Linked DNA regions of Homo sapiens: region 1 is linked to region 2. The links come from fine-mapping of genetic effects on gene expression. A gene starts in region 2. The other region holds a variant in brackets. All regions are shown on one strand. Distances are between the middles of the regions. Region 1 overlaps QPCTL (glutaminyl-peptide cyclotransferase like). Region 2 holds the start of SYMPK (symplekin scaffold protein).

Region 1 (4,383 bases), 160 kb before region 2:
CTACTAAAAATACAAAAATTAGACAGGTGTCGTGGTGCCTGCCTATAATCCCAGCTACCCGGGAGGCTAAGACGGTAGAATCGCTGGAACCTGGGAGGCAGAGGCTGCAGTGAGCCGAGATCACGCCACTGCACTCCAGCCTGGGCGACAGAGTGAGACTCTGTCTCAAAAAAAAAAAAAAAGTGCCAGAACATAGTATCTTTCACCAGTGTGTGGTGGCAAGGCAAGGTTACCTAGAGGTTGGGCTTGGGCTCCTGGGTTGTGGTGGGCTGCAGTGGACCTGACAAAGTCTCCTCTGTCACTTCAGGGGTACCCGTGCTCCATCTCATCTCCACGCCCTTCCCTGCTGTCTGGCACACCCCTGCGGACACCGAGGTCAATCTCCACCCACCCACGGTACACAACTTGTGCCGCATTCTCGCTGTGTTCCTGGCTGAATACCTGGGGCTCTAGCGTGCTTGGCCAATGACTGTGGAGAGGACTGTGAGAGAGAAGGTCCCAGCGGGGGCCAGTGAAGCTCAGGCAGGATCTGCCTAGGGTGTGCTGGTTTGTCCTTTTCATACCTTTGTCTCCTAATTGTGCTACAATTGGAAGACCTTCTTTCTTTTGATTGTCTCAAGCTGCCACCCTTCAAGGACAGGGAAGAGACCACTGTGGGATGACAGCCAGAGGAATAAGAACTTGCTCCCTCCCCAGAGGTAAACACTTGGTCCAAAGGTTTGCAGGGACCAAATACTGTTCTTTTTTTTTTTGAGACGGAGTCTCACTGTGTTGCCCAGGCTGGAGTGCAGTGGTGCGATCTCGGCTCACTGCAAACTCCGCCTCCTGGGTTCACGCCATTCTCCTGCCTCAGCCTCCCAAGTAGCTGGGACTACAGGTGCCCGCCACCACGCTGGCTAATTTTTTGTATTTTTAGTAGAGACGGGGTTTCACCGTGTTAGCCAGGATGGTCTCGATCTCCTGACCTTGTAATCCGCCAGCCTCGGCCTCCCAAAGTGCTGGGATTACAGGTGTGAGCCACCGCACCTGGCAAAATGCTGTTCTTTAAGTCAGCGAACTGAAAAAGTAAAAGACTGCTGGGTGTGGTGGCTCACACCTGTAATCCCAACACTTTGAGAGGCTGAGGGGGAAGGATCACCCGAGGTCAGGAGTTTGAGACCAGCCTGGTCAACATGGCGAAACCCTGTCTCTACTAAAAATACAATAATTAGCTGGGCATGGTGGTGGGCGCCTGTAATCTCAGCTGCTTGGGAGGCTGAGGCAGGAGAATCACTTGTACGCAGGAGGCGGAGGTTGCAGTGAGCCAAGATCACACCACTGCACTCCAGCCTGGGCAACAGAGCGAGACTCCATCTCAATAAATAAATAAATAAATAAATATTTTTTAAAAAGAGTAAAAGACTAAAAGACTATTACTGGTCTGGCCCAGTGATGCCACCCAGCTAGATGAATTCTCTGTGGTTTGTGTTGTGTCAGTTCATTCTCCAGAACAGCAGCCTTGCTACTGCACCAGTCCTAACCTAACTCCCACACGGGGCACACAGAGGATGTCCTCATAACCAGGCACAGAGGAGACAGAAGCTCATATTTTGGAAGTCCAGATTCTTCCAGACCCAGTGGGTAATAAGCCATTGTTTCTGGCTGGGCATGGTGGTTCACACCTGTAATCCCAGCTCTTTGGGAGTCAGAGGCAGAGGGATAGCTTGAGCTCAGGAGTTTGAGACCAGCCTGGGCAACAGAGCATGACCCCATTCTCCAGAAAAAAGAAAGAAAAAAAAAAGCGTAACCAATGTTTCTGCAAAACACCACCTGCATAAGCCAGGTGTGGTGGTGCACACCCTGTAGTCTCAGCTATTCAGGAGGCTGAGGTGAGAGAATCCCATGAACCCAAGAGTTCAAGACCAGCCTGGGCAACACAGTGACACCCTGTCTCAAAACAAACACCACCACCACCA[A/C]CAACAACAAAAAAGGCCATTCTGTAGAACTCGTGTAAATAGACATTGCATGACAAGGGGGATCTGAAATCCAAGAAGAGGGTGAGACAACATAAAATGAGTTTCCTCACTGCATCATGTGAATTTTTAAGACAGAACCCAGAGGCTCCCAAAGTATTTCACTATGGAACACTTTTTATTGGGAAGCACTTCATAGAACTAGGATACTTCGGCCGGGCATGGTGGGTCACACCTGAAATCCCAGCACTTTGGGAGGCCGAGGCCAGCAGTTCAGCTGAGCTCAGGAGTTCGAGAGCAGCCTGGACAACATGATGAAACCCCATCTCTACTAAAAATACAAAAATTAGCCAGGTGTGGTGGCATGAGCCTGTAATCCCAGCTACTTGGGAGGCTGAAACAGGAGAATTGTTGGAACCTGGTGGCAGAGGCTACAGTGAGCCAAAATCACGCCACTGCACTCCAGCCTGGGCAATAGAGCGAGGCTGTCTCAACAAACAAACAAAATACAACAACAACAAAAAGAACTAGGATACCTCAGAAGGTACTTTGGAAAACATGGGGTTTTGAAAGTCTGAGAGCATCTATGAGAGGAATGGGTAAGACAGATCTAGATTTACCGCAGAGTAGTTAGGGCACACTGTCTTTCCCCTTCAGCTGTTGGTACAGCACTGTGAGATGGCAGTGTAACTGCAAACTCCAATGAGCAAGTATTTCCCAACCCTACCTAATTTTCAGACTCAGCTGGGGTGCTCATTAAAAAATGCAGACTGGGTGCAGTGGCTCATGGCTGCAATCTCAGCACTTTGAGAGGTTGAAGTGGGAGGATCACTTGAGCCCAGGAGGTTTTTCTTTTTGAGGCGGAGTCTCGCTCTGTCACCCAGGCTGGAGCGCAGTGCTGCAATGCTGGCTCACTGCAACCTCCGCCTCCCGGGTACGAGCGATTCTCCCGCCTCAGTCTCCCAAATAGCTAGGACTACAGGTGCGTGCCACCACGCCTGGCTAATGTTTGTATTTTTAGTAGAGACAGGGTTTCACCGTGTTAGCCAAGATGGTCTCGATCTCCTGACCTCGTGATCCGCCTGTCTCGGCCTCCCAAAATGCTGGGATTACAGGCGTGAGCCACCGTGCCTGGCCCACGCTGTCCTTAAGGAGACACTTTGGTGCATACACAGCTGCTCAGCAAACCGACTCAAAAGAAAAACCTGAGACAGATGGCACCTGGAAGCAGTCCTACGCTGTGTAGGTGAGCATCTGCCCTCCAAATCAGCTCCAGGGCTGAAACTCGGGGTATCAAATGAGAGGATAAACATAGGTCCTCAATTTAGGTTCTTCCACATTCGCTGACATTTATTGAGCATCTACTATGTGCCAGGCATCATGAGAACTTTTTTTTTTTTTTAAGATGGAGTTTCGCTCTTGTCACCCAGGCTGGAGTTGCAGTGGCACAATCTCGGCTCACTGCAACCTCCACCTCCTGGGTTCAAGCGATTCTTCTTCATCAGCCTCTGGAGTAGCTGATTACAGGCATGTGCTACCATGCCCAGCTAATTTTTGTATTTTCTTGGTTTGGGGGAGAGAGTCTTACTCTGTCGCCCAGGCTGGAGTACAATGGCGAGATCTCAGCTCACTACAAACTCCACCTCCTGGGTTCAAGCGATTCTCCTGCCTCAATCTCCCAAGTAGCTGGGAATACAGGCACCTGCCACCATGCCCTGCTAATTTTTGTACTTTTTAGTAGAGATGGGACCATGTTGATCAGGTTGGTCTTGAACTCCTAACCTCAGGTGATCCACCTGCCTCGGCCTCCCACAGTGCTGAGATTACAGGCATCGAGCCACCATGCCTGGCCAATTTTTGCATATTTAGTAGAGATGAGTTTTGCCATGTTGGCCAGGCTGGTCTTGAACTCCTGACCTCAGGTGTCCACCCGCCTTGGCCTCCCAAAGTGCTGAGATTACAGGCGTGAGCCACCGTGCCCAGCCCATGAGAACTTTTTTTTTTTACATATACAAAACTATGTAGTCTCCCTGACTACAAATCCTGAAATAGGTACAATTTCAGTTCTCATTTTGCAGGTGAGGTGGCTGAGACTGAGAATTGCAAACGAGTTGTGTATGGTGTGCAAATTTTCACTCACAGCTGTGCTCGCAACCCCCATGTCCTATCTCCCTTCCAAAAAGTACCTGTGGCTGGGTGCGGTCACTCACCCCTGTAATCCCAGTCCTTTGGAAGGTTGAGGCAGGAGGACTGTTTGAGCCCAGAAGTTCCCGACCAGCCTGGGCAACAAAGACCCTGTCTCTACAAAAAAAATTAAAATTAGCTAGTATGGTGCCTGTGGTCCCAGCTACTTGGGAGGCTGAGGCAGGAGGATCTCCCGAGCCCAGGAGTTTGAGGTTACAGTCAGCTATGATTGTGTCACTGCACTCCG
Region 2 (4,383 bases):
TGCACTCCAGCCTGGGCGACAGAATGAGACTCTGCCTCAAAAAATAAAATAAAATAAAATAAAACCCCATAATAAACATTTCCACTTTTTTCATGATAATACATTCAGATCAACCAAAATATTTTACCCTGTTTCATTCTTCTTCTGCTTTTTGGTTTATGCTTTCAGTTTTGTTTTGTTCTTTTTTAAACACACATACACAAAATTCTCCTGCAGGAGCTAGATTTTATGCAAAAAAAGGAAAAAAAATGAAAATAAAAAAACCCATATATACATATTTCCCTTTCATTTACAAAAAGAGCATACACAGGGCCGGGAGCGGTGACTCACGCCTGTAATCCCAGCACTTCGGGAGGCGGAGGCAGGTGGATCACGAGGTCAGGAGTTCAAGACCAGCCTGACCAACATGGTGAAACCCCATCTCTACTAAAAATACAAAAATTAGCCAGGCGTGGTGGTGTGCCTGTAATCCCAGCTACCTGGGAGGCTGAGGCAGGCGAATTGCTTGAACCTGGAAGGCAGAGGTTGCAGTGAGCCGAGATCACGCCACTGCACTCCAGCCTGGGTGACAGAGTGAGACTCTGTCTCAAAAAAAAAAAAAAGGAGCCTACACAGGCCGAGTTTGGTGGCTCAGGCCTGTAATCCCTGCACTTTGGAAGGCTGAGGTGGGCAGATCACTTGAGGTCAGGAGTTCAAGACCAGCCTGGCCAACACAGAGAAACCCCGTCTCTACTAAAAATATAAAAATTACCTGGGTGTGGTGGGGCACGTTTGTAATCCCAGCTACTCGAGAGGCTGGGGTGGGAGAATCACTTGAACCAGGGAGGTGGAGGTTGCAGTGAACTGGGATCGTGCCAGCCTGGGCGACAGAGTGAGACCCTGTCTCAAAAAAAAAAAAAAAGAAAAAGCATATACAATAAACACCAACCTCCACTTCACTTGTTTTCCCTTAATATATGTTGGAGGCCACTATATCAGTGTATAGAGATTTTCATCATTTCCTTTTATCTACCTCATTCCTTTTTAGAGTTGCATAGTATTTTTTATGTGGATGTATTATAGTTTCTTTCAGCCAATCTTCTTATTTAAGAACATTTGGGATGCGTGTAGCCTTTTGCTATGATGAACAGTATCACTGTTTCCCCTTCCCTCTCGATGTACTCGTTAAGAAGTGGTACCCTGCCCCACTGCTACCTAGGAATCTGATGACTACCCTGTTTCCCCAAACTGGCTCTAGGAGTATCTTTTATTCCTTCAACGAACATTAGCTGGGCGTCTCCGGCGTGATTGGCGCTGTGCTGAGAACACAGTGGCGACAGAGACAAACCTAGTCCCTACCTTCATGGAACACACGGTCATAGACATCATAAAACAGCACACAGATAAGAGTCGGATAACAAATTAGACCACACGTGACATGAAGGAACACGGACCGACAAAAGCATTTAACAGGCGGATTTCTGGATGGAGGGCAGGGAAGGAGGGCTTCGCAGAGGAAGTGACGTTGGTGCCGAGACCCGAAGGATGAAATGGGAGTTAGCCAAGCCGAATGGGTAAAAGGATGTTGCAGGCAGAAGGGACAGCCTGTGCAAAATCCCCGAAGCGGGAAAGCGCATGGCAAGTTTAAGGAACCGAAAGGCCAGGGCGGCTGTTAGAGGTGGGGGAAAAAGCAAAGAGGCCGAGTCGAAGCAAGCGAGGTCTGCGGGGCGGTGGCGCCCGGGGGGCCACGTTGGAACTTTGCCTCGAGGGCACTAGGGAGCCAAGGAAGGGTCCTGAGCAAGGGAAGAAACATGGGTCGCGAAAGCCACTGTTCCCCTCTCCCCACGGCGATGCCCTCCCCGCCCGAGCCCCTGCTTCTTTAGGAGCCTCCTCCTTTCGTCTCCGGGCCCAAACGCCGCCTCCCGCTCACCGCAGCTCTGGCCTCCGTTCCCCTCGCGCCCCCTCAGCAGTGCCTCTTCCTACACTCCGCCGCCGCCGCCGCCGCCATCTTCCGTTCGTCGCCGGGAACGGTGCGCACGCGCCACACACCCAGGGCCGCCGGGAAATGGAGTCCAGAGCACAGCCCGACCCCGCCCATGCCTCGTCCCGTGCGAGCGGCATTCTGCCCGCCTCCATACTACGGCGAGCAGACCCTTCATTTCCGGCTCTGGGTCCGGCTAGGCCTTCTGGGAAATGTAGTCCCTTCGGAGGCACCGGGCGGAAAGGGAGCTAGAGCATTCTGGGAAATGGAGTTCTCAGTGGTGCTGAGTCCCTGGACGGCTGGCTGGTCTTGGAGAGTGCGGAGTTCGGGCAGCGAAGCTCCTGGGTCTTGGAGGGGAGGTGGTCTGTTGCCCTAGTGGGGTCTGCGGAGAGGCCCCGATCCCCTCCATCTTTGTTCTTGACCCTTTCAACAGTCTGAAGCATTTCTTTTTCTTTTCTTTTCTTTCTTTCTTTTTTTTTGGAAACGGAGTCCCGCTCTCTCTCCCAGGCTGGACTGCAGTGGCGCGATCTCGGCTCACTGCAACCTCCGCTTCCTAGGTTCAAACGATTCTCCTGCCTCAGCCTCCCGAATAGCTGGGATAACAGGCACGCACCATCACGCCTAGCTAGTTGTTGTATTTTTAATAGAGATGGGGTTTCACCCTGTTGGCCAGGCTGGTCTCAAACTCCTGACCTCAAGTGATTCGTCCGCCCGCCTCGGCCTCCTGCAGTGCTGGAATTACAGGCGTGAGCCACCGCGCCCGGCCAAGTTAAGCATTTCTAGCCGTCGGAAGCCTCAGTCTTCCTGTCTGTCCAATGGGGATGTGATTTCGGGGACCTTTTACGGGTCCTTGTAGTCGCATAGTGGCCCTAGCGTTCTGATTCCCCTTTCTTCCGCCACGGTCATGCAGGGCTCTGGCTCTTCGTCCTCTCCTGCCGAGATGATGAAGCCCCCTGAGGTAGAAAGGCTCCAGAGTTCTGACCTCGGGGCCCTTGGTATCTGCAGCGTCGCTGCGGGCAGCTCCCTCACTCCTGAATCACCCCCAGCTGTCGCGTCCTGGGGCTGCGGCCCCCGGCGCCTGAGGTCTGTCTCCTGGCGATCCCGCAGGGGGCGCCCCAGTCCGAGCGCGCCGCCCTCGGGGAGGCGGGAGGGGAGCCCGGGGCGGGCGAGGGCGGGGGTGTCCCGGCTATAAAGCGTGGCCGCCTCCCGCGGCGCTCGGGACAGCCGTACCCCGGGCGGTCGGACGGGCGGGCGCCGGTGGGAGCTCGGGCCGTGCCCGCTGAGAGATCCAGAGCGCTCCGTTCCCCCGGGGCCGGAGCGGGGGCGGGTGGGGGCGTAAGCCCGGGGGATGCTGGGCTCAGTGAAGATGGAGGCCCATGACCTGGCCGAGTGGAGCTACTACCCGGAGGCGGGCGAGGTGTGTCCTCGGGGATGGCGGAGCGGGAAGTTGGGGGCAGGTATCGGGGTGTGGGCTCACATGGAGCAGGGACTGGTTGTGGGTTCAAATGGAGGCAAAGGCGTCTACTTGGGCAGCTGAGGAACTGGGAACACGGAGACCAGGTGTGGAAGTCGGGGACCGGGGACGAGGCATGGATGGGAGCGCTGTTTGGGCAGCCTCGCCGCGGCCAGGGCTTAAAAATGGAAGTCAGGAAAATTTAGCCAAGGGTCGGGTCACACCTTAAACTTGGGAGCCGGGTGTTGGAGCCCCAAAAAGCAAGGGATTTATATGTACAAACCAAAGATAGGAATCAGAGTTCCAGGGTAGGGGACAGACTAGGGGGTTTCAGGATGTGAGGTTCAAAGTTGGAGGGAAAGAAAGACTAAAAGATGGAGGAGGAGTCACCATTAAGGGGAAGACTGAGGTGGGAGCTCAGGGCCAGCACACAGTGTTAAAGAACCGGGGTTCGGGGCTAAGGATCAGCTGGTAATCTAAGGTAGGGTCAGACATAGGGATTGGTGCTCAGGGGTCAGAGATGGGGGTGCTCAGAGATGAAGCTTCGTTTTTGGAGTCTGAAATAACAGGTGGCTTAGAGTTGGGCATCTGGGAGCAGAAGATGTAGCCATCAGCATTGGCAGGAGAGGGGCCGATCTCCACCCCCCCATCCCTACCCATGACCCTCCGCAGGGACTCCCCAAGTCGGAAGATGGAGAGTTTTAGATTGTGCACCTTCCCCTGCTCCCCGCCAGTCCAGCAACCTCCAGCTATTGCTAAAATTCCCATCCAGTCTCACCTCAGACAAGGCTTCCCTGGAGTGGGGGGTGGCGGCATATTCTAATCCCCTCACCTGGACAGACAGAAAGTCCTTCCTCAAGTCTGACCCCCATTCGTCTTGCTGCAACGACCCCTACACCTTAGCTACCTCACTCTGTAATCAACGTTGTGAGGTTGTTGGGGCTGGGGGTTGGGTTCTTGGTCTGAGAAT

The links. PIP is the estimated chance that this variant, and not a neighbour inherited with it, causes the effect. A credible set is the group of variants that fine-mapping cannot tell apart.
Region 1: its variant is the best candidate, but not a certain one, in a credible set for the expression of SYMPK in caudate (GTEx, PIP 0.60).

The regions. Positions count from the first base shown.
Region 1 is chr19:45,702,597-45,706,979 of GRCh38, forward strand. QPCTL (glutaminyl-peptide cyclotransferase like) reads left to right here. Exons shown (of 7, transcript NM_017659.4): 7 at 308-1,391. The coding sequence ends at 453. Among named protein-coding and RNA genes, the nearest start is that of QPCTL, 12 kb to the left of the region's middle. RefSeq lists an enhancer at 4,334-4,383. The variant A/C (reference allele first, on the strand shown) is at 1,956.
Region 2 is chr19:45,861,149-45,865,531 of GRCh38, forward strand. SYMPK (symplekin scaffold protein) reads right to left here and starts at 1,999. Exons shown (of 27, transcript NM_004819.3): 1 at 1,910-1,999. It overlaps FOXA3 (forkhead box A3), which reads left to right and starts at 3,178. Exons shown (of 2, transcript NM_004497.3): 1 at 3,178-3,377. The coding sequence starts at 3,309. RefSeq lists enhancers at 1,024-1,662, 1,914-2,323 and a silencer at 2,964-3,373.